Regions from separate parts of the Homo sapiens genome. Here all the other regions are linked to region 1. The links come from fine-mapping of genetic effects on plasma protein levels. Region 1 holds a variant in brackets. A gene starts in each other region. All regions are shown on their forward strands.

Region 1 (8,000 bases):
GGATGATGTATATGTATAACCACTCAGACCCACAACATATTCATATACTCAAGCCATGCCTCATTTCATATTCTGGTAAGAACTAAAAGAGAACGCCAGACATCGTTTATCTTAATAACTAAGTAGGGGAGGCTTTTATAGAATGTTTGTGGTTACAGAGCACTTTTATAATATTCCATTATTTTCCTATTTTGGCAAAGCAATGACAGCCACTCACAAAATTATTACCTATAAGATAATGTAGGCTGATTAATTAGGCAAAATTAAGTTGATTCATACCTGAACAAACATTAATCAATAAACCAACATAAATTAAGATCCAAATTTCCCAAATTGGTGTTGCACGGAACCAGGTTTGCTTTATTACCCTCTTAAGAGAGTCATCCCAAAATACATTAGCATCTTAAAACTGAATATTCTATAGGTGTCAAAAAACTTAAGACAGCACTGCTTAAATTTACTGGCACTTTTTTTTTTTTTTTTTTGAGACAGGGTCTCACTCTGTCGCCCAGGCTGGAGTGCAGTGCTGCAATCTCAGCTCACTGCAACCTTGCCTCACAAGGTTCAAGCAATTCTCCTGCCTCAGCCTCCCAAGTAGCTGGGAAATTACAGGCGCCCACCATGGCACCCAGCTAACTTTTTTATTTTTAGTAGAGACGGGGTTTCACCATGTTGGCCAGGCTGGTCTCGAACTCCTCCTGACCTCAGGTGATCCACCCACCTGGGCCTCCCAAAGTGCTGGGATTACAGGCATGAGTCGCTGCGCCCCGCCAGCACACACTTTTTTTAACCTCACACGTGGAGTATTCCAAGACAGCACTACTACCATCAAACGGTTATTACCAGGATCACTTACATGGCCTACTCCAGCTCTGAGGATGCTGCCCAGGAATGTAGTTATTTTGTTGGTTTTCTTTTTTTTTTTTTTTTTTTTTTTTAAGAGACAAGGTCTCACTCTGTCACCCAGGCTGGAACGCAGTGGCACAATCAGAATTCACCACAGCCTTGACCTCCAAGGCTCAAGCAATCCTCCCACCTCAGCCTCCCAATTAGCTATACCAGTCTTAGTGTAATGGTCATAAACCTTGTGTTCAAATTTGGTCACAGGTGTTCACTTTGTTCACTTTTTTCTTTTTTAAAGACAGAGTACTCCCTCTATCGCCCAGGCTGGAGTGCAGCAGCACCATCATGGTTCAAACCAGCCTCAACCTCCTGGGTTCAAGCAATCCCTGCACCTCAAGCTCCCGAGTAGCTGGGATTACAGGCAGGGACCACCATCCTTAATGTTTTATTTTCTGGTAGAGACAGGGTCTCACTATACTGCCCAAACTGGTCTTGAACTCCTGGGCTCAAGCAATCTACCTGCCTTGGCATCTCAAGTGCTGGGATTACAGCATGAGCCATCCTGCCCAGCGAGGAATGTGTATTTTGTAAAAGCTTCCCAAATTCTGATGAACCAGGATAAGGAATCACTAAAAATACTTTTAACTTTTTCTTCCCTTGAAGTCATCTTCCACAGTAATAAGAACTCCTGGCGACATTTCATCATTTAAGTAGTAAATGTGATTAAATGATTTGAAGGAAAAAAAACTACTTTTAATCAGCATATTAGGCAAGATTATACTATAAAGATCATCTTAAAGCATACAAAGACAATTTTATCTAAATTAAGTTTTAAAATGCATTTGTTGACATATCTACTTTAAAACGGCTTATCTTGGGCTGGGCATGGTGCTCACACCTGTAATCACAGCACTTTGGGAGGCCAAGGCAGGTGATCACCTGAGGTCAAGAGTTTGAGATCAGCCTGGCCAACACGGTGAAACTCCACCTCTACTAAAAATACAAAAACTAGCCAGGCGTGGTGGCGGGGGCCTGTAGTCCCAGCTACTCAAGAGGCTGAGGCAAGAGAACACTTGAACCCAGGAGGCAGAGGTTGCAGTGAGCTGAGATCCCTCCACTGCACTCCAGCTTGGGCAACAGAGCGAGACTCCGTCTCAAAAAAAAAATAAAAAATAAAAATAAAATGGCATGCCCTGTTTGTAAACTCATGAATGTTAAAAATGTAGGCTAAAATGGCATACATTACACAGGGGCAAAACTGCCTATGTACCCTGATATTTGGACTTCTTATGTTTCCGACTAAAATTTTTTTTTAACAATTTTTGTATTTTGTTACTACGTGATAAGCTAAAAGTGGCTTCAAAACGGCATCTACAAACACTTCAAATAACACATTCCAAGTATGAACAGTCTCTGGTCTCCAAAAATAAAAAGCAATACTGGGTAGCACTGTATTTTCTCTTTTTAACGTTACTTTTTGAAATATTACCAAGGACCTGTTCAGATACAGGATGTTAACACAGACAACTTATAAAGAATAAAAGACACTTTGGGAGGCTGAGGTGGGCAGATCACGAGATCAGGAGTTCAAGACCAGCCTGGCCAAAATGGTGAAATCCCATCTCTACTAAAAATACAAAAATTAGCCGGGCACGGAGGCTGGCACCTGTAATCCCAGCTACTCGGGAGGCTGAGGCAGGAGAATTGCTGGAACCCGGGAGGCGGAGGTTGTAGTGAGCCAAGATCGCACCACTGCACTCCAGCCTGGGCGACAGAGCAAGACTCCGTCTCAGAAAAAAAAGAAAAAACAAAAGAAAAGAAAAGAAGAGGAGGAGAGGAGGGAAGGAGGGAAGGAGGGAGGGAGGGAGGGAGGGAGGGAGGGAGGGAGGGAGGGAGGGAGGGAAGGAGGGAAGGAAGGAAGGAAGGAAGGAAGGAAGGAAGGAAAAAGGAGTTGGCCGGGCGTGGTAGCTCAAGCCTGTAATCCCAGCACTTTGCGGGGCGGGGGAGCAGAGGAGGGTGGATCATCTGAGGTCAGAAGTTCAACACTAGCCTGACCAATGTAGTGAAATTCTGACTCTATTAAATAAAAAAAAAAAAAATCAGGCATGGTGGCACATGCCTGTAATCCCAGCTACTTAAGAGGCTGAGGCAGGAGAATCACTTGAACACAGGAGGTGGAGGTTGCAGTGAGGTGAGATTGCGCCACTGCACTCCAACCTGGCGACAGAGTAAAACTCTGTCTCAAAAAAAAAGAAAAAAGTAACAAAAATCGTGAACCAAATATTTAGAATCATTTACATTTTTATGCTCATCATCTAGTATTTCATTATCGACTTAATTTTCTTAATGCTTCTTGTCTCTAACCGTTGATCTATTGAATGAAGTATTGAAACAATGAGTAAGAGTTAATAAAATACATGACTAAGATTAAAACAATATGAAACCTTCATGACAGAAGGATTAAGCTGAATTATTAACTGGTTACAGCACCACTAATTTGTCTCATGCTCATTTGACATCTCTTCACATTACCTCATTTTAAAGGAAGATAAACATTTAAAATGTTTTCTCTTTTTCTAAAGTAACAGAAGTCCTTTCACTACCACCGTGGAACACCTTCTTGGGCCCGATTACTAAGGTGAAGAAATTGTTCTAAAGGTCTGTAAATGGTAAGCTCCAAAAATTTGTTCACAACCCCATCCAGCTCAATGTTTTAAAATCAAAACTTGGCCGGGCGCGGTGGTTCACACCTGTAATCTGAGCACTTTGGGAGGCTGAGGCAGGTGGATCACCTGAGGTCAGGAGTTGAAGACCAGCCTGGCCAACATGGTGAAATCCCGTATCTACTAAAAATACAAAAACTAGCCGGGCGTGGTGGTAGACGCCTGTAATCCCAGCTACTCGGGAGGCTGAGGCAGAAGAACTGCTGGAACCCAGGAGACGAAGGTTGCAGTGAGCCAACACAGTGTCACTGCACTCCAGCCTCGGCAACAGAGTGAGACTCTGTCTCAA[AAAAT/A]AAATAAATAAATAAATAAATAAATAAATAAATAATCAAAACTTACGTGGGCTGAAGAAAAAAAAATTTTTTAATTTAAAATTTTTTTAAAAAATCAAAACTTAAACAAGATGAAAACACTGAAGGCAAATTTCTCACACAGTTTTAAGAACAAATCTAAGTTCTTTAAATGTTATAACACTGTCCAACAGAACTTTATGCAACAATGGAAATGTTTTATATCTGCAATGTCCAATAAGGAAGCCATTACACTCACATGTGGCTACTGAGCATTTACAATGTTGTTAAGGATAACAGAAGAACTGGATTTTAAATTGTATTTACTTTTAATTAGACGAAATTTAAATTGTCACATATGGCTAGTGGCTTTGTATAAAATGTAGGTTTAGAATGTGATCTTATTCTGCTTCCAGACAAAATTGGAATAATCAGATTTACTCTCCTAACTGAAATAACTAAAAAACAGAATAGAACAATAGGTTTTCAAATATTGACGAACAGGCGGCACAGGACAGTGATCCCTGAAAAGGGGAACAAATATAAACCCTACAACCATCCTAGCTTATTGCCTGGGAATACTTTTCAGGCCAAAAAGCACAGGGAGGGAGAATCCAAAGCCTGGATTGAGGGGGGTGGGGGAGAAAAAGCTCCCCTGAATTGAGAAGCCAGAGCTGGAAGCCAAGGCAGCTGGACTTGTCAGAGCGAAGCACAGAGATGAGAGAGCTGCACAGAGAAAGAGGTCCAGCGCACCACTGCACTCCAGCCTGGGAGACAGAGCGAGACTCCGTCTCAAAAAAAAAAAAAAAGAGAAAGAAGTCCAGAGTGGTGTACCAGGTCCCTCTCAAGTCTTCAGCTCAGTACTGATTAATTAGCACATGCGTATAAACTACCAGAGAAGCCCCAGAAAGAAGCAGTGGAAACAATCCCCACAACTCACAGAAGTAGCAGAGTAATTCCTCCTTCCACTACCCAAAGTGAGAATCTCACAAGGCATCAGATGAGTAGTCAGAAGGTTCCTGCCCTCAGTAGCATGGAAAAACTAGTCTCTAAAAGCTGCTGCGACTCTGCTGAACAAAAGCTTAAAAACAAGCCTTGAAAGGATCAAACAGTCTCCAAGTAACTTAGCCTCATCCCAGAACGAAGCTCAAGAATATTTGTAGTACAAAAATATCCAGCAACAAAGTAAAATTTTACAAGGTAAAACTCACAATAGCTGGAAAATTAACCAGGCCAAGAAAGAAGCAGGAAAATATAACCCATGATGAGAAGAAAAACCAGTGCGAGCAACAAACCCAGAAAATGAAAGATGATAGAATTAGTAAACAACATTAAAAATGAAATTTATATTAAGCCAAATGCGGTGGCTCACTCCTGTAACCCCAGCACTTTGGGAGGCCAAGGTAGGAGGAGAAAAATACTTGAGGCCAAGAGTTCAAGACCAGTCTGGGAAACACAGGGAGGCCCCACCTCTATGAAAAATTTTTAAAATGAAAGTTTTGTTTTTTGGTTTTTTTTTGAGACAAGGTCTCACTCTGCCACCCAGGCTGGAGTGCAGTGGCACGACCTCGATCACTGCAACCTCTGCCTCCTGGGCTCAAGCAATCCTCCCACCTCAGCCTCCCAAGGGTCTGTGACTACAGGCACGCACCAACCATGTCCAGCTAATTTTTGTATTTGTTGTAGAGGCAGGGTTTTGCCATGTTGCCCAGGCTAGAAAAATCAAAGTTATTAAAATGGTAGTTATTTTAACTATATTCCATAAGTTCCAAAAGGTTTCATAAACCTACCAACAGAGCTTCAAAATACATGCAGCAAAAACTTATGATAAAACTCTGAAGAGAAACTGAAAACACATATAGTTCAGATTTCAACTCAATAACTGACAAAACTACTAAGAGTCTGTAAGAACAGAGAAAATAATGAACAATACTATCGACTAACCTGTGAAAATGTTTTAACTGACCAGAAATATTGTGAATCAACAACTGTTCTCTAACTGCCAAACAAGATAAAGCAATCCTGACTCTTATCCAGGTAATAAGATTTCACAAAATAATTGAAGATCACATCATTAGAATTCTATGGTCCTGGCCAGGCGTGGTGGCTCATGCCTGTAATCGCAGCACTTTGGGAGGCAAAGGCGGGCGGATCACGAAGTCAGGAGATAGAGACCATCCTGGCTAACACGGTGAAACCCCGTCTCTACTAAAAATACAAAAAATTAGCCGGGCGTTGACGGTGGGCGCCTGTAGTCCCAGCTACTCGGGAGGCTGAGGCAGGAGAATTGCTCGAACCCGGGAGGCGGAGGGTGCAGTGAACCCAGATGGTGCCACTGCACTTTAACCTGAACGACAGAGTGAGACTCCGTCTGAAAAAAAGAATTCTATGGTTCTGGGCTGGGCACAGTAGCTCATGTCTGTAATCCCAGCACTTTGGGAGGCCAAGGCAGGCAGATCACCTGAGGTCAGGAGTTCAAGACCAGCCTGGCCAACATGGTGAAACCCGTCTCTATAAAAACACAAAAAAAAATGAGCTGGGCATGATGGCAGGAGCCTGTAATCCCAGCTACTCCAGAGGCTGAGGTGGGAGAATCCCTTGAACCCAGGAGGCGGAGGTTGCAGCGAGCCGAGATCCCACCATTGCACTCCAGCCTGGACGACAGAGCGAGACTCCGTCTCAAAAAAACAAACAAACAAAAAAAAGAATTCCATGGTTCTGAACAACCTCCAGCGTACAAGAAGGGGCCTGGATAAATCCTTCATTCCTGAGAATTACAAACCCGAATTCTTACAGGAGCAAGTTAGATAAAGGTTAAAAAAAAAAAAAGGGGGGGGGGGGGACAAAGGTCACGTGTGACCAAGGACAAACTGAGGAGGACATACTCCTACCACCAAAGAAAAAAGCCAATCTCTCAAATCTAGCCAATGATGCTAGCCAATAATGGAATGCTTCCAATTCAATGCTTCCACTGTTGCAAAACCTCATACTTTTCCAGGAAGTGCCTAAAAATTTGGATTTTTATGTGAGGTCTAGGTTTGGAAACAGTAACCACCAACTCATTTTTTTTTGAGACTGAGTCTTGCTCTGTAGCCCAGGCTGGAGTACAGTGGCAGGATCTCAGTTCACTGCAACCTCCACCTCCCAGGTTCAGGCAATTCTCCTGCCTCAGCCTCCCAAGTAGCTGTGATTACAGGCATGCGCCACCACACCCGGCTTATTTTTTGTATTTTTAATAGAGACAAGGTTTCACCATGTTGGCTAGGCTGATCTCAAACTCCTGACCTCAAAGGATCCGCCAGCCCTAGCCTCCTGAAGTGCTGGGATTACAGGCATGAGCCACTGTGCTCAGCCCAATTCAGCAAATTTTTAACAAAGCTAAAAAAAAAAAAAAAAAGTCTGGAAATCAAATTCATAGCAAAAGTTATGCTTTAATCCAACAACCTCATCTTACAAATGAAACAGAAAAATCATTCAAGTCATCATAGAAGATAACTTCATCTAACCTTATCTAAAATACTATAGATATGGACACAAAAATCACCCTTTTAGAGGAAACTAAAACAAGGATGCTACCAGAATAACTTGGGACACAACTCTTTTTTTCTTTTTTTTTGGAGGGGGGGGTGGGGGAAGGGACAGAGTCTCACTGTCGCCCAGGCTGGAGTGCAGTGGTGCAATCTTGGCTCAATGCAACCTTCGCCTCCTGGGTTCAAGCAATTCTCCTGTGCGCACCACCACGCCCGGCTAATTTTTGTATTTTTAGTAGAGACAGGGTTTCACCATGTTGGCCAGGCTGGTCTCAAACTCCTGACCTCAGATGATCCACCTGCCTCGGCCTCCCAAAGTGCTGGGATTACAGGCGTGAGCCACCACGCCTGGCCAGGACCCAACTCCTCAGGAATGACAAAGCTGTCTTCCAACGCTGAAGGGCAAAATTTTATCAAAGGCTTTCTGAATTATTCCAGAAGACAAAACTAAAATCAATGGAGACAATTACATACAGACAAGGTAACTTGGGGAAAATGGAAGCCAAAAAAAAAAATTGTTCTAAAAGAGGTTGTCAAAACAACAGCATGGCTGTTTTGCAGAATATTTAGCTCAATTACCACAACCATATCGCTAAAAATCCCTGAAGAATTCT
Region 2 (3,797 bases), not on the chromosome of region 1:
CAGGAAAGTTTAAGATAAAACCTGAGACTTAAAAGGGTGTTAAGAGTGGCAGCCTAGGGAATTTATCCCGGACTCCGGGGGAGGGGGCAGAGTCACCAGCCTCTGCATTTAGGGATTCTCCGAGGAAAAGTGTGAGAACGGCTGCAGGCAACCCAGGCGTCCCGGCGCTAGGAGGGACGCACCCAGGCCTGCGCGAAGAGAGGGAGAAAGTGAAGCTGGGAGTTGCCACTCCCAGACTTGTTGGAATGCAGTTGGAGGGGGCGAGCTGGGAGCGCGCTTGCTCCCAATCACAGGAGAAGGAGGAGGTGGAGGAGGAGGGCTGCTTGAGGAAGTATAAGAATGAAGTTGTGAAGCTGAGATTCCCCTCCATTGGGACCGGAGAAACCAGGGGAGCCCCCCGGGCAGCCGCGCGCCCCTTCCCACGGGGCCCTTTACTGCGCCGCGCGCCCGGCCCCCACCCCTCGCAGCACCCCGCGCCCCGCGCCCTCCCAGCCGGGTCCAGCCGGAGCCATGGGGCCGGAGCCGCAGTGAGCACCATGGAGCTGGCGGCCTTGTGCCGCTGGGGGCTCCTCCTCGCCCTCTTGCCCCCCGGAGCCGCGAGCACCCAAGGTGGGTCTGGTGTGGGGAGGGGACGGAGCAGCGGCGGGACCCTGCCCTGTGGATGCCCCGCCGAGGTCCCGCGGCCGGCGGGGCCAGAGGGGCCCGGACGAGCTCTCCTATCCCGAAGTTGTGGACAGTCGAGACGCTCAGGGCAGCCGGGCCCTGGGGCCCTCGGGCGGGAGGGGGCAGTTACACGGCAGCGGCTCGAGATGGCCCATCCAAGAGACTGGCGCTTTCCAGGCTCCGAGGGGCTCCGGGAACTTGTCAAAGAAGTTCTCTGAAATTGTTCAGAAAGTTTTCCCGCAAAGGGTGTATTGCGTAGAGCGCGCGCGCGCGTTTCCCCCCTTCTTGAGCCCCCTCAAGCTTTCTCAAAGCCTTTCCAGTTGGCAGCCTCCGCCTCCGGACTGGCCTGGGCTGGATTCCTTGGGGGGGTCCTCTGCCCTGCCCCTCCTCCAGCCCCTCCCCGCTCCCCTTCAGACGATTTTGGTTTGGTTGCTCCTGCTTCTGGCGGGGTCGGGTGTGTGTGTGTGTGGTGGAGTGGAGGGTGGCATAGCAACCTGTCCCAACCAGAGCCGGGGAGGAAAGGGTGGCCCGGAGGGTGGCCTCTTGCTGGGGTCTGGGTTGGGGGCGGGGGAGACGTTTGCTTTGAACAGATTCTTGGGGCCAGCTTAGGGACTGTGCTCTGTGACTTTTGGAGCGCGTGGACCATGGAGGGGTGGGGGTGGGTTTCTTGGGGTGTAAAGTGGGAGAGTTCCCAGAGAAGGAAGCTAAGAAATAAGGCCAGATGGGAGCCTAGGGAGGGCTGCGTTGTTCTGCTGCCTTTTCCTTGGTGCTGTGCGTGGGGAAGGGTGAGTGGGGGCAGTGTGTATCCTGACCCATCTGTCCACCTGTGTGCATTAATCATAAAAGCTAACATATAGCCTGGGCCAGGTATACTCTGCCAGGAACTGTTTGTGGTGTTTTGCATGCATTCTCCTTTAATCCTAGAACACCCCTATAGTGGAAGTTCTGCCAGCATTCTGGACTGAGTAGCAGTCCAGAGGTTGAGTAGCAGCTAGTAAGTGGTGGGGTCAAGATGGGACCCCAGGCAGTGCGACCCCCAACCATGCATTCGAAATCGCTATATGGATGAGTGCACCTGGAGCAATGAGGGACACTGCTCCCTGAGTCACTGGGCTGCAGGGGAGACAAAATGAAAGTGTTCTGGGAGTCGTGGGTGGTCTCCATAGGTCAGAGGGTCTGGGGAGGGAGTGGGTGTCATCGTGGCTGTGTGTTGCCCGAGGGGCCCTCTGTGAGTGAGTGCATGGCCGTGTTATCTCTGCAGGTCTACGCCAGGGTGTTCCTCAGTTGTGTGGTCTTTGTATTTGTGTGTCTGGGCTTTGTGTTGCCAAACAGCAGTCTCTCTGCTGACTTGGGGACACAGGCTGAACTCTGTCCTCTGCAGGAACTCCCTTAAGGTGCTGGGCCAGATCTGCCATAAACAGAGGGAGGTAGCCTTCTATGGCCACGCCTTCTTGCTGAGGAAGAAGGTTCCTCTCTTCCAGGGAGTACATCCTTGCCCTCCCTGTTTCCCAGACAAGCATCTTCACCTCTCATCTTCTGATGAGAAGGGTGAGGCCATACTGAGCTGTCAGGCTGAGCTGCTGCCCTTCCTCACCTTGGGCTGGGAGTTGATCAGGGAATGGCAGTTGCTGCAGAGCTGGATTTGAGGGCTGGGTTCTCTGGATGGGGCCTCCTCATGTCCTCACCCCTCAACCTGCACTATTGATTGTGTTGTGCAGGAGTTAGTTAAAAAGTCATTGCACAGCCTGGGCAACAAGGCAAAACTCTGTACAAAAAATACAAAAATTAGTTGGATGTGATTACACGTGCCTGTAGTCCCAGCTACTCCGGAGGCTGAGGCAGGAGGATCACCTGAGCCCAGGAAGTTGAGGCTTGCAGTGAGCTGTGATTGCAAATGCTCTCCAGCCTGGGTGACAGTGTGAGACTCCGTTTCAGAAAAAAAGTATACCACCCAGCTGCCTCCAGCACCCAGATTTTACCCAAGGGGTGAGGTCTGGGGCAGGAATGTGGGGGAAGGGGAGGCCTAGGGGGAGCCCCAGAGGGGTCAGGATTTTTCTGAAATCCTTTCTTAGAGGTATGGGTTTTACAAATTGCAGCAAATACATCCTTTTAATCTTGCAGAACTCCTTCATATTTTAATTCCAGTATGATTCTTCCAACAGCCTCCTCTCTTTACTATACTTGGGGAAAGTACTCATTTTATTTGTCAAGAAAAAAACAATTGAAAAGATAGGGATCAAATGTAAAAAGAAAAAATACGTGGCATTCCAAAGTCAAACACAAAGCATGTTTAATTTTCTCGTGGTTTGGGATTACCCATATTCCTGCTGTATGAACCTGTCTTGTCTTAACTTTTAAGAAATGTACGGTGTACTTCCTATATGCTAGGTTTTTATCCATGCTTTCATTTAATCTCTGTGACAGTCCTGTGAAGTAGGTGCACAGATGAGAAAATGGAAGTTCAGAGAAATGAAGCAACTTATCCAAGGCTCCCAGCTACCCAGTAATGTCCAGGGAATTTTTGGACTCTGAAGAGGAGGCATTAAGAGGTGGTTAGAGTCTTATTCCAGCCAACAATAATGGGTTGAACAAAGCCTTAGGGGCAGGCAGGTGGCCAGATGGGAGGAGAAGCGCTCCTCTTGTTCAGGCGAATGACCTTTCCATCCACTTCTCTAGGCTGTAGAAAGTGGAGCTGAGCTGGGGGCCCTGAGGTTCCCTCTTGACTTCAGAGTCCTCTCCCTTCCTGTCCAGCCAATGCCTGTCTTCCTTTTGGGCCCTACCAGCATGACAGGGGGCTGCGGGCAGGAGGGGACAGAGGCCACGTTGACACACAGGGCTGTGGGTGAGAGAGACAGCTGAAGTGTCAGCGTGAGGGGCCAGTGTGGGGCTGCGGCTGGGAGGGCTGGGGTGGGGCCCAGGGTAGTTGTGCCTGTCCTTGGGTGATGGAATGATCTGGAAAGAGATTCCTTCCCTGCCCTCCACCTGTGAGAAGCCCCTCTAGAGTGACATCTCCATCTTATGTTTGGCCACCCATCCTCCCCCTGGGAAGAGAGCCGAGGTGGGGTAAGGGATGTGTACTCTTTCAAGGAGTGGGAGAATTATTCTAGCGAATGTTTGTGTTGTCCCAGTTCTGT
Region 3 (9,397 bases), not on the chromosome of region 1:
GAGTATGTACACTTTTATAGGAAACTGCTAAGCTGCATTCCTAAGTGGCTGTACCATTGTGCCTTCCCATCAGCAATGAATGAGACTTCCTATTGTTCCACATCCTCATCAGAATTTGGTGTTGTCACTGATCTGAATTTTTTCCATTGTAACAGATGTGTAGTGGTATCTCACTGTTGTTTTAATTTGCAATTTCCTAATGACATATGATGTTGAACATCTTTTTATATGCTTACTTGCCATCAGTGTATCCTCTGATGAGGTGTTTGTGTAGGGCTTTGGCCCATTTTTAAATCAGGTTATTTATCCTCTTATTATTAACTTTTAAGAGTTTAGTTCTTTGCATATTTTGGATAACAATCCTTTATCACATATTTCTTTTGCAAATTTTTCTCCAGTATATGGCTTGTCTTCTTCTCCTGGCATTGTCCTTCTCAGAGCAGAAGTTTTTAATTTTAATAAACTCCAGCTTATAAATTATTTATTTCATGGATTGTGCCTTTGGTTTTGTACTTAAAAAGTCATTGTCATACCTAAGGTCATCTAGGTTTTCTCCTACGTTATCTCCTAGGTGTTTTATAGTTTTGCATTTTACATTTATATGTATGATCAGTTTTGAGTTAATTTTTATGAAGTGTGTAAGGTTTGTATCTACATTCATTTTTTGCATGTGGATGTCCATTTGTTCCAGCAATATTTGTTGAAAAGACTATACTTGCTCTATTGTATTGTGTTTCTTTTTTGTCAAAGATCAATTGACTAAATTTATGTGCGTCAGTTTCTGATCTCTCTGGTCCATTGATATATTTGTCTATTCTTTCACCAATACCACATAGTCTAGACTACTGTAGTTGTATATGTCTTGAAGTCAGGTAGTGTTGATCCTCCAATTTTGTTCTCCAATATTGAGTTGGCTATTGTGGGTCTTTTGCTTGCCCATAGAATCAATTAGTCAATATTTACAAAATAACTTGCTCGAACTTTGACTGGGATTAATCTATAAATCAAGTTGGGAATAAGTGACATTTTGACATTATGGAGTCTTTCTGACCATGAACACAAACTATTGATCCATTTATTTAGTTATTTGATATCTTTCACCAGAGTTTTTTTGTTTTTTTCTTATAGATCTTATACATATTTTCTTATATTCATACCTCAGTATTCCATTTCAGGGTGTTAATGTAAATGGTAATGTGTTTTTAATTTCAAATTCCCTTAGTTCTTTGCTGGTATATAGGAAAGTGATTGGCTTTTGTATGTTAACGTTGTATCCTGCTCACTTGCTATAACTGCTTATTAGTTCCAGGAGCTTTTTTATTGTTTCTTTTGGATTTTCTAAGAGACAATTACATTATCAGTGAACAAACACGATTTATTTCTTCCCTCCCAATCAGTATTCATTTTATTTATTTATTGTGTGTTATTGCATTAGCTAGGACTTCTAATACAATGTTGAAAAGCATTGGTGAAAGGAAACATCCTTGCTTTGTTCCTGATTTTAGCTATAGGTTTTTGTAGCTGTTCTTTATTAAGTTGAGGATATCCTTCTCTATTCTTAGTTTGCTGAGAATTTTTATCATGAATAGGTGTAGGATTTTGCCTAATGTTTTCTTCTGTATCTATTGATATGATCATGTAATTTTTCTTTATCTATTGATATGATCTGTTGATGTGATGAACTACATTAATTGAGTTTTCAAATGTTGAACCAGTCTTGCATATCTGGAATAAATCGGAGTTGGTCATCATGTATAACTTTGTTACACTTTGTTGCATTTGATTTTGTAATATTTTCTTGAGAATTTTTACATCTATGTTCATAAAAGATATCGGTCTACAGTTTTCTTTCCTTTCTTGTAATATCTCTGTCTGGTTTTGCTATTAAGGTAATTCTGGCTTCACAAAATTAATTATGGAGTCTTCCCTCTACTTCTAGTTTCTGGAAGAGATTGTAGAGAATGGATGTAATTTCTTTCTTAAATGTTTGACGAAAATCAGCACTGATCTCATCTGGGCTTGGTGCTTTCTGTTTTGGAAGGTTATTAATTATTTATTCAATTTCTATAGTGGATATAGGCCTATATTGATTGGCAATTTCTTCTTGTATGACTTTTGGTACATTCTATTTCAAGGAATTGGTTCATTTCATGTAGGTTGTTAAATTCGTGGGTATAGCTGTTCATAATATTCATTTATTATCCTTTCAATGTTCATGAGATCAGTAGTGATGTTCCTTCTTTCATTTCTGATATTCATAATTTGTGTATTCTCTCTTTGTTTCTTAGCCTGGTGAGAGGCTTATAAATTTTATTGATTTTTTGAAGAATCACTTTTTGGTTTTGCTGATTTTCTTGCTGGGATTATAGGCGTGAGCCACCACACTCTTGCTCATTTTTTCTATTTTTGTTTTCCACACTTTTTCTGCCTCTGTGGATTTTACACAGCATTTTGTATAATTCGATTTCCTCTTTTTAGCATAGCAATTATTTTAGTCTTTAACTTTTTAAAATCAGTTGCCCTAGATTTTTTTCTCCCAACATTTTGGGAGGCCAAGGGGAGAGGATCACTTCAAGCCAGGAGTTTGAGACCAGCCTGAGCAACATAGCAAGGCACTATCTATACAAACATAATTTTAAAAAGTCCAGGCATTAGCTAGGACTGTGCCTGTAGTCCCAGCTACTCAGGAGGCTGAGATGAGAAGATCACCGGAGCCTAGAAATTTGAGGCTGCAGTGGGCTGTGATCATGTCACTTCACTCCTGCCTAGAAGACAGTTAGACCCTGCCTCTAAAATAAACAAGCAAATAAATAAAAAGAAAGGAAGAAAAGAAGAGCAAGGGCAGCAAATAGAAAATAGTAATAAATATGGTAGCTATTAATCCAACTATGTCAATAATTACCTTAAATGTTAGTGGTCTAAATATACTGCAATGGACTGAATGTTTATGTCTCCTCAAAATGTATATGATGAAATGTAAGCTCCCAAAATGATGTTATCAGGGGAGAGTGTTTTTGGGAGGGGATTATGTCATGAGGGTGGAGGCCTTACAAATGGGGTTAGTGCTATAAAAGAGACCACAGAGAGCTGCCTTGGTCCTTCTGCCATGTGAGGGCACTGTGAAATTATGGCCATCTATGAAGAAGTGGGCCCTTATTAGACATCAAATCTGCAAATACCTTGATCTTGAATTTCCCAGCCTCCAGAACTATGGGAAATAAATTTCTGTTGTTTACAAGTAAATCATTTTATGTTATTTTGTTACAGAAGCCCAAAAAGATGAAGACATACACCAGATCACTCCATTCTCTTCTTGCTTGCATGGTTTCTGAGGATACGTTGGATGTAATTCTAATATTCTCTATAGGTATTTTCTTTATGGCTCCTCTACAGGTAAGGTGTTTTTTCCCTTTGGCTTCATTTAAGAATTTTTCGTTAACCTTTGATTTTCTGAAGTGTGAATATGTTATGCCTAGGTATCATTTGTTTGTTTGGGTTTTCTTGGCATATATCTTCCTGATGTTCTCTGAACTTCCAGAATCTGTGATTTGTTGTCTGACATTAATTTGGAGGAATTTTTGGTATTATTGCTTTAAATATTGCTTCTGCTCCTTTTTCTCTTTCTTTGACTTACAGTATTCCCATTACATGTAATTATCTCACAGTTCTTGAAAGTTTTGTTTTGTTCTTTTTGTTAGTCGTTTTTCTTTCTGTTTTTCAGTTTTGGCAGTTTCTGTTTACGTATCTTCAATCTCAGAAATTCTTTCCTCAAGCATGTTCAGCCCACTAATGTGTACTTCAAAAGTATTCTACATTTCTTTTACAGTGTTTTTGATCTCTAGAATTTTTAAATTCTTTCTTAAAACTTTCATCTCTCAGGAATTCAAGACTAGCCTGGGCAACATAGTGAAACTCTATCTCTACAAAACATTAGCCAGGTATGGTGATGCATGCCTGTAGTCAGAGCTACTCAGGAGGCTAAGGTGGGAGGATCACCTGAGCCTGGGAAGTTGAGGTTGCAGTGAGCCAAGGTCACGCCACTGCACTCTGGATTGGGCAACAGAGCCAGACCCTGTCTCAAAAAAAAGAAAAATTCCATGGCTCTGCTTACATTATCCATCTGATCTTACATGTTGCCTATTTTTTCCATTAAAACTCCTAGCCTATTAATCATAGTTTTTTTATAATTAATACTCCGATGTGATAATGTCTTAGTCCAATTACTGTGGTTATAACAGAATGCCACAAACTGGGTGATTTATAAACAAAAGAAGCTGATTTAGGCTGATTTAGAGGCTGGGGAGTCCAAGAGCTTGGTGCTAGCATCTGATGAGTGTCTTCTTGCTTCATCATAACATGGGAGAGGGCATCACGTGTGAAGAGAGCTTACTCTTATAACATAGCCACTCCCACAAGAATTAACCCACCGCCATGAGAGCCATGTGAATTCATTCATGAGGACAGCGGGTTAAGTTTCCAATATATGGACTTTTCGGGGACACATTCAAACCACAGCAGTTAGTTGTAACGTTCGTGTCATGTCTCATTCTGGTTCTGATGCTTGTGCAGTCTCTTCAAACTGCGTCTTTGCCTTTTAGTGTGCCTTGCAATGTGGAAATGATATACTGGGTAAGAGGAGCTGTAGTAAAGAGGCTTCTAGTGACGTAGTGACAAGCTGTGGGGAGAGGGAGTGTTGCACAGTCCTGCCGCATGTCACAGTCTTCCAGTGAGCCTGTGTCCCTGGACTGTGAACTTCATGCTTGCTTCTCAGCTTCCCCAGCCCCTTAGATGGTACAGAACTGTTGGAGGGGGGTGGAGTTGTATATTTCCCTTGCTCTGGGTAGGTCACCCTCTGATAAAACACCAGGTTAGGCCTCTGGTGAAATAATTTCTCCTGAGGGCAGACCTTCTATTAATAATAGAATGTTCCAACCTATTTCAAAATGGTTCCTCTTCTCCTTCCACTGCCAGAAGCATAATGAGATTTTCCCCCTAATATTCGTGGTAAGGACCTAGCAGAGCTCCAGGAGGTAACACTCTCAAGTGTCTCATACTACCCTGCACCATGACTGGGCTCTGCTGGAGTTCTTAATTTGCAGAACTGCCCACACTGAGCCTCCCGCAATTTCTCAATTACAGGGCAAACTTTCCCAGCCGGCACTGGGTCCTTGGAGGTTTCTGTCTGCTGGTTTCTTCCTCTGGAGGTTGTGCTTCTGTGTTTGCCTGTCTCTCCAATTTGGGGGGCAGTGGTTTGCCCAATGACCTCAATTCTCTGAAAGAGCTAAGAAGAGGTGTTAATTTTTCGGTTTGCTCAGCTTTCTACTTGTTGCTAGAATGGAGCGCCAATAGTGCCTCCTATAGTGACATGTAACCCTCAACTCTAGAGATGATGAAGCATACTAATGACAAAGGAGAAATGCTTCAGCAGTTTTCTGTCAGCACATTACCCCTTGAAAAAGCTGCTTCTTCCACATTCTGCAAGAGATGGGTCTCAACTCAGAGCTCAAGGCAAATGACTTCCTTCAAGGAGAAGGAATAAACAGTCTCAGAAACCATGAAAGCCTGCCCCCAGGAGTGTCCCTGAACCTCAGCAGGGGCCACACTTACCTTGCAGAAATAGGTGAGGCATGCTCCTGGTACAAAATCCCAATGGTACAGAAGGACAAATTGAAAAACAAGTCTCCCTCTAAACCCCTGACCCCGAGCTACCTAGTTCTCCTCCCTAGAGGCAAAGCTGTTACCAGATTCTTGTATCTCCTTAACATATATCCTTAGAAGAGCTGTCAAGTGAACACATGTTTAAGTGAAAACCTATTTTAGAAGTGCATTTTCTTAAGGAACTTTAGGGTTGGAAGGAACCTGTGTCAGTCCTTAATTCACAACCTCCATTAGTACTTATTGTTCTTGCACAAAAATCTTTCTCAAAAAAGCCCTTTCCACTCTGACATAGCTTATTCTACTTTTACTTAGCTCCAATAACTTATAAAACATATTTTTGAAAGTCTAAAATCTGCCACTATGTTTTTTTTTCCTAATCAATCTTTACTTTGACCTCTAAGCCAGAGAAAACAGGTGGTCAAATGCCTTTTGCCTAAGATGGAACTTAGAATATTTGAAGACCTCAGATCTTCACCCTGCCAAATAACGTGTTTCTCCTCCCCTTTCACAGAGCATTTGGTTTTAGGAAATTCAGAGCCACATTCCTTATAGACAAGACTAAACTCTTATTCAACATACTCAGAAACTTCTTCTAAGAGGATAACCACTCATCAGAGGAAAAAAGTTTCTCATGTACAGCTGGCAAAGGGATGGAACCATCTGTGTTATTAAAATTGACAGACGCTTATGAGATTTATTAAGGGAAATACTAGAGTCTTAGTACATACTTGCTAATATAGCATACATGAAGGCTTTATCTATAATTTTTTTGGCCAAGCAGAAATTTTGGTATTACTCACCCTAACAAATTTCCAAGACATTATGAAATAGAATTTTAGGTCCTGACATCACCATTTGTCTCAGGTTTTGAAGCGTTGCTGGACAAGAGGGGTAAAACACGGCTCTGCCTTGGATTCAAAGTTGGCCTCTCATACTAGCAAGTATACCTTGGTATCCTGGTCACTTCTCCCGGCCACAGCATCACATTGCTATAAAAGGCAGATACAAGTATTAACCAGCTCACAGGTTATCAGATAAGCTTAGTCTGACCAATGCTTAACACAGCAACTGGGCCACTATTGTCATTCCTGTGGTGGTGGCACACACACCCAGCCTCTGTCCGGGCCATGGTCTAGGACCACCCTCCACAGAGGCTGTGAGCTAGAGCCCTAACTGTGCAGGGCCCTAACTATGCCAGGCTACTTATCTCTCTTAAGAGGACTTCATTAGTGCCTGCTCGGCCATACAGTTTTTTACTTACCAAGTAACACAGTTATCAGCACACTCCAGGTACTAGCCAAGGACTACAAAATCAACGTGAATGTCAGCTTTTGTATCAAAAGCTCAAAGGAGAAACTCAAACTTTACATAGATGTCCCATGAAGATGTTCAGCAAACCCATTCTTCTCTGTTCCCTGGAATCCATCCCAGTATTGTGCTATGTGTGTGTCTAGTAATTCTTTACAAAAAGCTCTGTTTCTTGTGATGCTATCAGATCACATTGAAGAATATACAAGCCGTACTATGAAGGCTGTTGTCTCATATAGTCCTAACGTAGTGAGAACTGATGTTCTTACATGCTGTCTTTTTGGGCACTCAAAGAAATTCCTGTACAGTCTTACAAATCAGTTGTAGCTTAAATTGATTTGTGTTGTGACTTGTACACACAGGTCACATTCCCTTGACAGAAAATATAGTTTAAAACCAAATTTGCAGCCCTTGTTAAGTGAATGCACAGGACTTTATTGTATTCAGGTCTTTTATTGTAAGACTCACTCCTGTCTTCATTTTATGTTCCACTGTTGTGCTTCCCATTTGCCTTTCTCTAGTTTTGTTTTCTGTGTTTCTACGGACTGCTCTCAGCCCAGGTGTGCAGGAAGCACACACATGCCTGCAGAGCCTTCATGGCCTCTGCATTCAGGGCATGACTTCAACGCACAGTGGCTGTACTGATTTGTTAAAACAAAGGAACAGATTACTTCTCCTAATTCACAGGGAAGTTCCAGGTTGTGCGGGCAGTGAGCAGACCTGTGTCTGTCTGCGCTTGCCCTGGTGAAAAACCCCACCGTTCAGGCTGCAGGGTGCGAGACCCAGGCACAAACATTTTGCTGGATGAGGAGGAAAGATGTAAGGTTGCTCCCCTTCAGAGACAGCAAAGGGCAGGTCTGTAGCTTCACTTACTTCAGGATTGTGATTTTTGACAGAGCCGAGAGATCAGGGTTGTTGAACCAGGCCTGAAGGTCCTAGTGAATCTCGTGAAGAGAGGAGGGGTCTGGCTGTAACATGGACCTAGAGGACATTTTTACTGCAGGAGAAGGAACAGTGGGGATGGGGTGGACTTGCCAAAGGAATATAGCTCAAGTTCCTGCAGCCCAAAAAAGCTCAGTTTCTTTTGGCCAAAGCTTCCGCGAGTTTCCCTGGCATTTCTCCTGCGGGAGCTACAGGGGCAGTGGGACACTTAGCCTCTCTAAAAGCACCTCCACGGCTGTTTGTGTCAAGCCTTTATTCCAAGAGCTTCACTTTTGCGAAGTAATGTGCTTCACACATTGGCTTCAAAGTACCCATGGCTGGTTGCAATAAACATTAAGGAGGCCTGTCTCTGCACCCGGAGTTGGGTGCCCTCATTTCAGATGATTTCGAGGGTGCTTGACAAGATCTGAAGGACCCTCGGACTTTAGAGCACCACCTCGGACGCCTGGCACCCCTGCCGCGCGGGCACGGCGACCTCCTCAGCTGCCAGGCCAGCCTCTGATCCCCGAGAGGGTCCCGTAGTGCTGCAGGGGAGGTGGGGACCCGAATAAAGGAGCAGTTTCCCCGTCGGTGCCATTATCCGACGCTGGCTCTAAGGCTCGGCCAGTCTGTCTAAAGCTGGTACAAGTTTGCTTTGTAAAACAAAAGAAGGGAAAGGGGGAAGGGGACCCTGGCACAGATTTGGCTCGACCTGGACATAGGCTGGGCCTGCAAGTCCGCGGGGACCGGGTCCAGAGGGGCAGTGCTGGGAACGCCCCTCTCGGAAATTAACTCCTCAGGGCACCCGCTCCCCTCCCATGCGCCGCCCCACTCCCGCCGGAGACTAGGTCCCGCGGGGGCCACCGCTGTCCACCGCCTCCGGCGGCCGCTGGCCTTGGGTCCCCGCTGCTGGTTCTCCTCCCTCCTCCTCGCATTCTCCTCCTCCTCTGCTCCTCCCGATCCCTCCTCCGCCGCCTGGTCCCTCCTCCTCCCGCCCTGCCTCCCCGCGCCTCGGCCCGCGCGAGCTAGACGTCCGGGCAGCCCCCGGCGCAGCGCGGCCGCAGCAGCCTCCGCCCCCCGCACGGTGTGAGCGCCCGACGCGGCCGAGGCGGCCGGAGTCCCGAGCTAGCCCCGGCGGCCGCCGCCGCCCAGACCGGACGACAGGCCACCTCGTCGGCGTCCGCCCGAGTCCCCGCCTCGCCGCCAACGCCACAACCACCGCGCACGGCCCCCTGACTCCGTCCAGTATTGATCGGGAGAGCCGGAGCGAGCTCTTCGGGGAGCAGCGATGCGACCCTCCGGGACGGCCGGGGCAGCGCTCCTGGCGCTGCTGGCTGCGCTCTGCCCGGCGAGTCGGGCTCTGGAGGAAAAGAAAGGTAAGGGCGTGTCTCGCCGGCTCCCGCGCCGCCCCCGGATCGCGCCCCGGACCCCGCAGCCCGCCCAACCGCGCACCGGCGCACCGGCTCGGCGCCCGCGCCCCCGCCCGTCCTTTCCTGTTTCCTTGAGATCA
Region 4 (9,397 bases), not on the chromosome of region 1:
TTTGAAACCATGTCACATAAAGATCAGTTGAAGGAGCTGAAATTATTTGGCCAAGACAGAGAGGGATCATGATCCCTGTCCCCTAACCTGTAAGAGCTGTCATGGCACAGAGACAGCCAACTTTTTCTGCATGGCCCCAACGGGCAGAGCCAGATCAATCAGTTAACTAAAGTAAGAAATTTCAGCTAAGCCTATGGAAATATTTCTTCAAATGTAGAGCCACATTAGGAGGTAGTGGCATTTAAAGTCCTATCTACCCCTAAGGGTCCATAATTTTTAAAATCAAACATTTGGGCCAGCGTGCGGCAGCTCACACCTATAATCCCAGCACTTTGGGAGGCCGCGGTGGGCAGATTACCTGAGGTCAGAAGTTCGAGACCAGCCTGGCCAACATGGTGAAACCCCATCTCTACTAAAAATACAAAAATTAGCCAGGCATGGTGGTGCGCACCTGTAATCCCAGCTACTTGGGAAGCTGAGGCAAGAGAATCGCTTGAACCCGGAGGTGGAGGTTGCAGTGAGCCAATCTAGCCTGGGCAAAAAGAGCGAAACTCCGTCTCAAAAAAAAAAAAAAAAAAAATCAAACATTTGTCATTACCTTAGTGTCTTACTGATTATTATTACCTCTGGTATCACAGCATCTCTCTTCACCCTGCTTAAAATGTCCTACCCAGGGCCAGGCACGGTGGCTTACACCTGTAATTACAGTACTTTGGGAGGCCAAGGTGGACAGATCACCTGAGGTCGGGAATCCGAGACCAGCCTGACCAACATGGAGAAACACTGTCTTTACTAAAAACACAAAATTAGCTGGGCATGGTGGCACATGCCTGTAATCCCAGCTACTTGGAAGACTGAGGAGAATCGCTTGAACCCGGGAGGTGGAGGTTGTGGTGAGCCGAGATAGCACCATTGCACTCCAGCCTGGGCAACAAGAGCGAAACTCCGTCTTAAAAAAAAAAAAAAAAAAAAAAGTCCTACCCAGCCAACCAATCAGTGAATGTTTTGCTGGGTTTGTGGGAGAAAAAGTGCCTGCTTGCTGGGCAATTAGTTTCAGTTTGCAGATCAGTGTCCTTGTAAACAAAAAAGGGCCCTAACTGAGGGGCAGGCAAGAGCTCTCAGCTAGATCTCCATGAAAGAAATTATTATTAATTCAAAAAGCATCTATAAGACCTATTCAATCAAATAATATATTATCAGTGGCATTAGTTCTTACAGGAACGTTGAAATTAAAAAATACTGTACAACCATCTTCTCAAATGCCAGGGAATCCAACTTTGCAAGCCAAACCAGTTGTCTCAAATTCAATTATAAGTTTTCCTTCTGCCAAAGAGATATGTTTTCTGTTTAAAGTAGACTGGAGCCCATGCTCCATACTTGATCAGATCACTGTAAAGTCAATTTAGCTGCTGAGAACTAGATATTGGCAATCTAGAGTGAATTCACAGAGAAGTACAAACTACCTAATATTTAAAACACAGGAAAGTTATCGAAATTGGACATCCTTCCAAGATTTTTTCACCCAAAGACCATCACAGACGTAAGTATAATGTTAGTTCATGAAAATTATTAAAAGCCTTGAACAACAGTTCAGATGACAAATATTACTCAATCCAGCTTTACTGCAGTGTATACTGAATTGGATTCTAAGCAACTCCAGTGAAAGTATTAGAGAATATAGTAAATAGATGATGGATTTAACAAAAATACTCTGTGCTGCTTCCTCTCTGCTTTTTAAAGTGAAGCCTAGAAGCAATCTAAGTGTCCATAAATAAGGGCTTGGTTAAATAAATTATGATACATTCTTACCCTGGAAAATGCAACTATTAAAAAGAATAAAGTAGACCCTAGATACCGATATTTTTTTTAAAAGTCCATGATACATAGTTAAGTGAATACCACAAGTTGCAAAACATGTATAGAATTATTCCATTTTGATTTTTTAAAATCTATTTTTAAATACCCTGTGTGTATGTTCATATATGCCCAGCAAAAACAGCTGAAAAAAGATCTGACAAATTGCTAACAGTAGTAACCTCTAGGGACTGACTGAAACTAGGAGGCAGTGAAGGAGTGACTTTCCCTTTTTCCTTTGTGGACTTCTGGTTGTTTATATTTTTTTGCCAGTAGGGGTTACCTTTGGGGTTGAAAAATAACAACACAAAAATAGTAAAAGTAAAATAACATGAATTACACAGATTTATTTATCAGATACTAACCAAAGTAAGTGATCTTTCTACTTAAATGCTACTGTATGCTTAAAACTCCAGAGAATCTAATTCATTCTTTTTCTATTATATTTTACTAAAACAAATAAAAATCACCCCAAGTCCCTACTAGTTTTCTCAAATGCTTTCTATACATACATACATACACACACACACACACACACACACACACCCACAGGCCTGGTCATAAGCATAGCTAACACACACGGTGCTTATTCTACACTAGGAACTGTTGTAAGCACAGTAAGTGTTAACTTATTTAATCTTCCCAGCAGGCCTGGTGAAGTGAATCATGCCTGAAATCCTAGAACTTTGGGAGGCCGAGGCAGGAGGACTGCTTGAGTTCAGGAACTCAAGACTAGCCTGGGCAATATAGTGAGCCCTCATCTCTACAAAAAATACAAAAAATTAGCTGGGTGTGGTGACCCACGCCTGTAGTCTCAGCTGCTCAGGAAGCTGAGGTGGGAGGATCGCTTGAGCCTGGGAGGCAGAGGTTGCAGTGAGCCAAGATTGTGCCACTGCACTTCAGCCTGGGCAACAGAGCCAGACCCTGTCTCAAAAAACAAAAACAAAAACAAAAAAAGTCTTCACAGCAACCTTATGAGTTAAGTACTACTATAATATTATCTTCATTTCACAATCAAAGAAACTGAGTCCAAAGAGCTTCAGTGAGCCGCCTAAGCTTACACAGCTAACAAGGGGAAGAGCTAGGATTCAAACCTAAGAATAAACTCCAGAGTCCATACTCTCAACCACTATGCTTCCTGTCTCTCAGTAATATGTCAATCTCTCTATATGAAAGCCAAAAGGGGTTACAGGTAAAACCCAGCTAGCTAATGCATTCCTTGAAGCTGGAAGAGATGCACACTTGGCTTTTTATGGGTGAATAATCCTACTTATGTCATTGCCAAGCTCCAACCCAAGGATCAAGACTGTATTAAGGTTCATAACCATGTGGGAAAATTCTCTACACACTCAATTATAGTCCAAAGTCCATACCTGACTCCACAGTAAATCACTAAGCCTAAGATTTAGGTCAGAGACCCAGCTAGACAAAGGATTTGGACAAACCTCCACCCCAACTCAAAGCAAGACAATTCAGAAACTTTTGTCCAAACGTTCTGACAAAGTAGGCTTTTGTTTTGTTTTGTTTTAGTCCTAGGCCCACTTAAGATTTAAACGGGGAAAGAATACGAGTTGTCTTTAACTTTGCTTGAAGACTTCAGCAAGAAAAGCCTTTTCTACGTGGGCTCAAACAGAAATTGGCATATATCAGCATCAGCAAAGTTGAACATCCTGGCTTAAGGAGACAAAAATAGGCATCCTTGCTTAAATGGTGTATTTGGCCAAACATGTTGACCTTATAATTGTGGAAGAAAAAAATGGTGCGAGGAAGAGATTTAACCTAATTTGTAAATGTGCTCAGCCTAGATACACACCTGTCCCAAATGACCTACTGAATCCACTTATTTGCAGGGACAACATGGATTACAATGCCTTTTTTGTTTTTATTTTTTGCCCTCAAGTGGTCCATACTACTGTTTGTAAACAAAATCCTCTCACTACCTCTCTTCCACCTGTCATACACACACATCTGATATTTACATAAACAAGAAGAAATGAACAGGGAAACTGGAGCTTTGGGAGGAATTCCTTACCCTCAGCTTTTGACCCAGTGGTTGAAGGAGGTACTATGCGGGCTTTCAAACTTCCCCAAATAACCCAGGCAGAGAGGCTGGGTGCGCGAACCCAACCCAAAAGTTTGCGCCCATTCTGGTCTCTGAAAAAGGCCAGAAAGCCCTGTTGGGAAGAAGATGAGATGCCTTCCACCCAGCAGCCACCCCCTCCCGAGGGAGCACAGCCCACGGGGGACAAAAGACTTTCCAGATTGATCGGGGGCGGGAGGGAGACTAGCTGGACCTGGGATCCCCCCTCGGGAGCCGGAACCTGGGGTGTCTTTGGGGTAACAAACGATAAATTATAGGCAAGAGCCCAACCCTAGATTGCCGGGGCTGAGGTGAGGACGGGTCCTGCCCGAGAGGGAGCGCCGGACTCACCTGGAGGAGGCGAAGAGGGGGCCTCGGTGGCAGGTGGGGTGGGGAGGACGCTGCTGTTGCTGCTGCTGGGGAGATCGGGGGTCGGGGTCCGGGGAGTCGTGGGCGCCGGTACGGTGGTCGCTACAGGGGTGGTCGGCGCCGGGCCAGTGGTCGTCGAAAGGGTGGTCGGCGCGGGTCTGGTCGGCGCCTGAGAGGTGGTCGAAGTGCGTTCCGCCGCCGGAGGGGTGGTCGGCGAGGGGCCGAGCGGCGCCTGAAAGGTGGTGGAAGAGGGTCCAGCAGTCGCCCAAAGAGGGGTGGTCTCCGGGGACTGGGCTGGAGAAGTCGCAGCCAGGGGTCGGTGGACGGTGGCGCGCGGGGGCCCGGTCCTCGGGGCCTGGGCCGTGGGAGCCGTCGCCCTAGGGAAGGGGTGGCTGGGCTCGCCCCGCAACCCGGGGCCCGGCGACGCGTCCACCTGCCCCGCGGCCCCGCCGCCACCGGTGACATTCCCCGCCGAGGCGGCTGAGGCGACGGCGGCGGCGGCGGCGGCGGCGGCGCAGCACAACAGGGCGAGGCCGCCCAGGCTCGGCAGGCTCCTCATGGCGCGCTCGGCTCCGCCATTCATTCATTCAGCCAGTCGGTTGGTCAGTCATCTTCTCCTCGTTGCAATCCGACCAAGGAAGCCTCCGCAACCGCCGCCGCCACCGCCACCGGGCGCACCATCGCCACCTCCCTCTGACAGGCGGCCGGCCCCGCGGGCGGGCCCCAGCGCGGAGGGAGCGACCGGACCGAGCGCGGACCGCCCGCCCTCCTCGATTGGCAGCCGCGCCTAACCAATGGGAAGCCACAGTCGCCCACGTGATCCGCCCGCTTCCCGGCCTCTTTGTAGCCCCGTAGGCCAATCAGAGGACGTCCAGGAGAGGGGGCGGTCCGTGAGGCGGGAGAAGGGTGGTGCGAGCCCAGCTCTAGCCCGCCGGGCTCGCGGCGGCCCCGGCTTTGTCTGCCCAAAGAGTGGGGCGCGGGCCTCGGGCACCGGGCGCCGCGGAGCAGACAAAGGATGCGCCCCGCGCGGCAGACGCCGGGCCTAGTCATCTGCTCCACCGGGCTGCGAGCACGAGCGGGGGGTGGAATCAGCACTCGGGAGCATCCCCGCCCTCCTGAACAATGGGGCGCCAGCGCCGCACCCCAGCTCGGGCGGGGACCGCGCGGGAACCCCGCGATGGGAGAGGGCAGCGGCAGCGACGATGTAGAGCTTGGCATGCCCTCTGCTGCTCCAGAGAGCCTGGTCGCAGCCTTGCGAGGTCTCTGCCGCCATTCCCATTTCAGAGATGGGGAAGCTGAGGCCCTTGCTGAGGGCCTCCCTGAACCGAGACCCACGCCCTCACCAGAAACCTGCTGTGGGCCAGGTGTTGTGCCAGACTGGACAAGGGGGCGGGACCGGGCGGTGGAGACCCCTGAGGGCAGAAGGTGCAAGCTTCCTGCGTGGAGGAGACAGGCTCGCAAGCACACTTACCTAAACCCCGGGAAGAATAGGATCAGACAGGGTTGAACCTCAACTTGATGTCTTTTGCTGAATGGTTTTGTGGCCTGAGCGCGGTTTTTTCACCACTAAAATGGAGATGATAGGACACCCCTCACCCCCCACCCCCCTCACAGAGCTGTTGTGAGAATTAAGTCATGGACGTAAAGGGCTTAGCCCAGAGCCTGGCCCACTGTTGTAACCCTCATTAATGCTAACTATTCTCAGCATTTGCGCCAGGGCAAGCCCAGGATTAGAAAGCAGCCCCAGGCCACAGCCCTTCAGTGCCCCCAGAGCCTCCGGCTGGTTGCAGGGGTTGGGGTGGGGCTAATAGCCGAGCTTGACCCTGGATGACACTAAACCCTGAATCAAGCTGGAATTCGGGCACGCAGCCTCGCATCATCCGCCCAGGATCCAGAGCTAGGTCAGGCGCTGCTGCTTCGGCTCAGCAGCTTCCAGAGGAAGCCAGGCAGGGCGGGTTTGTCATCTGATGGGGCTTAATTCAAGCCCCACTGCTAACCCAATCCCGGCCTCCCCTACGTGATGTTTGGCTTTGTGCATGGTTTCCCATTAGTCATTGGTCTTCAACCAGACCAGCAGGATGAGATTTATGTGTGAACCCGTGTATGTTAATTAAAGCATGCATTTATTTTCCTGCATGAGTAGTGGGTGGGGGAGGCTGTGTATGAATGCATAAACATGTTTGTGAGTCTGTGTGTATGAGTGTTGTATGTATCTGTGTGAGTTTATGAGTATGGGAGCTAGTATCTATTTTCATATATTGTGTCTTAATAATCTGTGCATGTGTACTGGTGTGTGTTTTTGTGTATTTTCTGTGTTTTTGCATTTGTGGTTATCTATGGGTGTGTCTTGATAGGTCTATGTATATAAGACAGCGGGAATGAGGGAGAATGTGAGTGTTCTGTCTTCAGGACCAATATTTAGCAAGCACTAACCAAGGTTCTATTTTTACTTTGCTTTGGGAGGGTGGACAGGTCATGCCAGTCCCCCATATTCCCTTGCTGACCCTCCCTGGCCCTTCAAACCCCAACCAAAATGTCACATTCTCTAAAAGACATTCCTGGATTTGAGTGGGAATTAATCTCTCCCTTCTCATTTCCCCACCACCCCTTGTTTATGCATTGATTACAGCCCTGATCTACCAATCTACCTCTCCGTTGCCTCTTCCTAAAAGGATTAAGGATGGCTTTCAGAAATATATACAACAGGATAAATTGTATTGCCCACATGGCTTTATTACTTCTCATAGGCATGCATCAGCCTTAATACTAGAACTTGTTATTTATGTGTCTGTCTCTTACGTCAGATGTTCTCCCTGTTCTGAGAACCTAGCAGGGGCAACACATGTAAGTGCCAACCCATGCTGGTTAAATTGAATTAATTGAGGTCTTGTCGTGCTTGTGGGAGGAGCTTGTGTCTTTAGAGTCAGACAGACTTGGGTCATGACTGCCAACTCTGTGACCTTGGAGGAAACCTTTCACCTCTCTGAGCCTCAGTTTTCCCCCCCACTTTTTTTTTTTTGAGACAGTGTTTCACCCTTGTCGCCCAGGCTGGAGTGCAGTGGGGTGATCTTGGCTCACTGCAACCTCCGCCTCCCAGGTTCAATCGATTCTCCTGCCTCAGCCTCCCGAGTAGCCGGGATTACAGGCACTTGCCACCAGGCCCAGTTAATTCTTGTATTTTTAGTACAGACGGGGTTTCACCATGTTGGCCAGGCTGGTCTCGAACTCCTGAGCTCAAGTTATCCTCCGGCCTAGACCTCCCAAAGTGCTGGGATTACAGACATGAGCCGCCGCGCCAGGCCACTTTTCTCATCTATTAAATGGGGCCAATAAATAGTCTCTCATTTGTTGACTAGGATTGAGGAGAATGTTTTTACAGAGCCTAGCACACAGACGGTGCTCAAGCTGTGTAGGTTCATATTTTTGTTATACCATTGCTAACTTTGAGACTTGTTGGCTGAAGGACCAGAGCAGAAACCCCTGCCCCATAAGTTCCCCATCAGGTGACATGGCCTGACACTTGCCCTACCTGATATTTCCAAATGATATCTGAAAAATGCTGGGTTGGCCCTGAGCTTTGCTGTATCAGAGGTTCTCTGGCAAGGGGAAAAAAGCTGATGCAGCTTCTTGGCCAGGAGAGCCACAGAGCAAATGACTAGGAGACCTTGTCGAGTGATTCAGGTCAGCTCTCTGCCTTAGGCAAGGATCATCCATGCCGGGGCTTTTAAGATGGGATATTAGCCTGTCATATGTATAGAAAATATTGAATTTTTTTGAAAGATACCAGTAATTTAAATGTGTTAATGTCCATTCAACATTTAATTTTTAAATTTCCTTAATCTTAAATCTTCCTTAATCTCTAAACTACAAGATGACTTTCTTAGGAATTATGTTTGTGTTTAAAAATTGGAAATACCTTACATATCTGTCATCAAAGAAAGGTATTATTATACCTGTTAAATTTAATCCTAGAAAGTCATTGTAAGTGTAGCTATGAAGACAGTATAGCAAATATTAATAGTAAATAATTGAGCTCATAGTCTATGCTAGACACTATACCAAGAGCTACATATGAATTGTTTTGTTTAATCCTAAAAACCCCAGGAAATAGGTACTATTATGTCTTAGTCCATTTGGGCTGCTGCAACAAAGTACTGTAGATTGTGGCTTGTAGACAACAAAAAATATATCTCTCCCAGCTCTGGTGCCTGGGAAGTCCAAGATCAAGGCACCAGCAGATTCAGTGAGCTCCCTGGGTGTCCTTTAAAAGGACACTAATTCCATTCATGATGGCGCTGCCCTTATAACCTAATCATCTCCCAAACGCTTCCAAATACTTTTACATGGGGAGTTAGGATTTCAACGTGTGAATTTTAGGGGGACACAAACATTCAGTCTATAGTCTATTATTATCTGCATTTTACAGCTAAGGAAACTAGGTCACAGGTTAAGCAACTTGCCCATGGTCACTTAGTAAATAATAGAGCTAGAAATCAAACTGAGGCTGGCTGGCTCCCACTGACACCCTTAACTATAAATGGAAAATCCTCATAATGGTAAGAAGAAAAGAAAAAATAAAAATTATAGCTGTGACACTCTGTGTAACAGAACATTGACTGGCACTTTTCCTATTTGCCCCAGAACTGTAGCTAAGGCCCATGAGACCTGGAGCCAAAGGCTTAGGGAAGGACCACAGAACAGCAGGGGTCAGAGTGGGCCTTGTTGGAGCCAATGTGCAGCCTGACTTTTCTCCTAGGCAAATGAGGTGCTCTAAAGGGCCCCAACTGATTTCTCACTTTATTAGTCAGCACCGAGCACAGTGTCAAATACACAGAAATGGCTCAAGAATTGTCTGTGAGCCAGGCACGGTGGCTTATGCCTGTAATCATAGCACTTTGGGAGGCCGAGGTGGGTGGATCACAAGGTCAGGAATTCAAGACTAGCCTGGCCAACATGGTGAAATCCCGTTTCTACTAAAAATACAAAAAAGTTAGCCAGGCGTGGTGGCGGACGCCTGTAATCCCAGCTACTTGGGAGGCTGAGGCAGGAGAATTGCTTGAACCTGGGAAGCAGAGGTTGCAGTGAGCCGAGATC

Direction of the effects. Positions count from the first base shown, and alleles are read on the strand shown. Strength reflects both the effect of a copy and how common the allele is.
As copies of A replace AAAAT in region 1, the plasma level of the protein whose gene starts at base 362 in region 2 goes up (weak association).
With allele AAAAT in place of A in region 1, the plasma level of the protein whose gene starts at base 8,915 in region 3 is lower (weak association).
In carriers of allele A in region 1, the plasma level of the protein whose gene starts at base 4,998 in region 4 tends to be higher than with AAAAT alone (weak association).

What was found. PIP is the chance, under the fine-mapping model, that this variant and not a neighbour inherited with it causes the effect. The UK Biobank Pharma Proteomics Project read protein levels with antibody pairs (Olink). The fine-mapping took linkage between variants from a reference panel, not from the people measured, so its PIPs are less certain.
Region 2: ERBB2 starts here. The variant in region 1 is fine-mapped to the plasma level of the ERBB2 protein (UK Biobank, PIP above 0.99).
Region 3: EGFR starts here. The variant in region 1 is fine-mapped to the plasma level of the EGFR protein (UK Biobank, PIP 0.96).
Region 4: it holds the start of MEGF9, and the variant in region 1 is fine-mapped to the plasma level of the MEGF9 protein (UK Biobank, PIP 0.98).

Annotation. Positions count from the first base shown.
Region 1 is chr3:136,178,066-136,186,065 of GRCh38, forward strand. The region is part of intron 1 of MSL2 (MSL complex subunit 2); the gene reads right to left. Among named protein-coding and RNA genes, the nearest start is that of MSL2, 14 kb to the right of the region's middle. The variant AAAAT/A (reference allele first, on the strand shown) is at 3,856.
Region 2 is chr17:39,699,703-39,703,499 of GRCh38, forward strand. ERBB2 (erb-b2 receptor tyrosine kinase 2) reads left to right here and starts at 362. Exons shown (of 27, transcript NM_004448.4): 1 at 362-609. The coding sequence starts at 537. RefSeq lists enhancers at 1,344-1,845, 1,846-2,345.
Region 3 is chr7:55,010,103-55,019,499 of GRCh38, forward strand. EGFR (epidermal growth factor receptor) reads left to right here and starts at 8,915. Exons shown (of 28, transcript NM_005228.5): 1 at 8,915-9,263. The coding sequence starts at 9,176. It overlaps LOC105375284 (a long non-coding RNA gene), which reads right to left and starts at 8,820. Exons shown (of 4, transcript XR_007060329.1): 1 at 6,459-8,820.
Region 4 is chr9:120,709,473-120,718,869 of GRCh38, forward strand. MEGF9 (multiple EGF like domains 9) reads right to left here and starts at 4,998. Exons shown (of 6, transcript NM_001080497.3): 1 at 4,286-4,998. The coding sequence starts at 4,886. RefSeq lists a silencer at 4,686-5,535.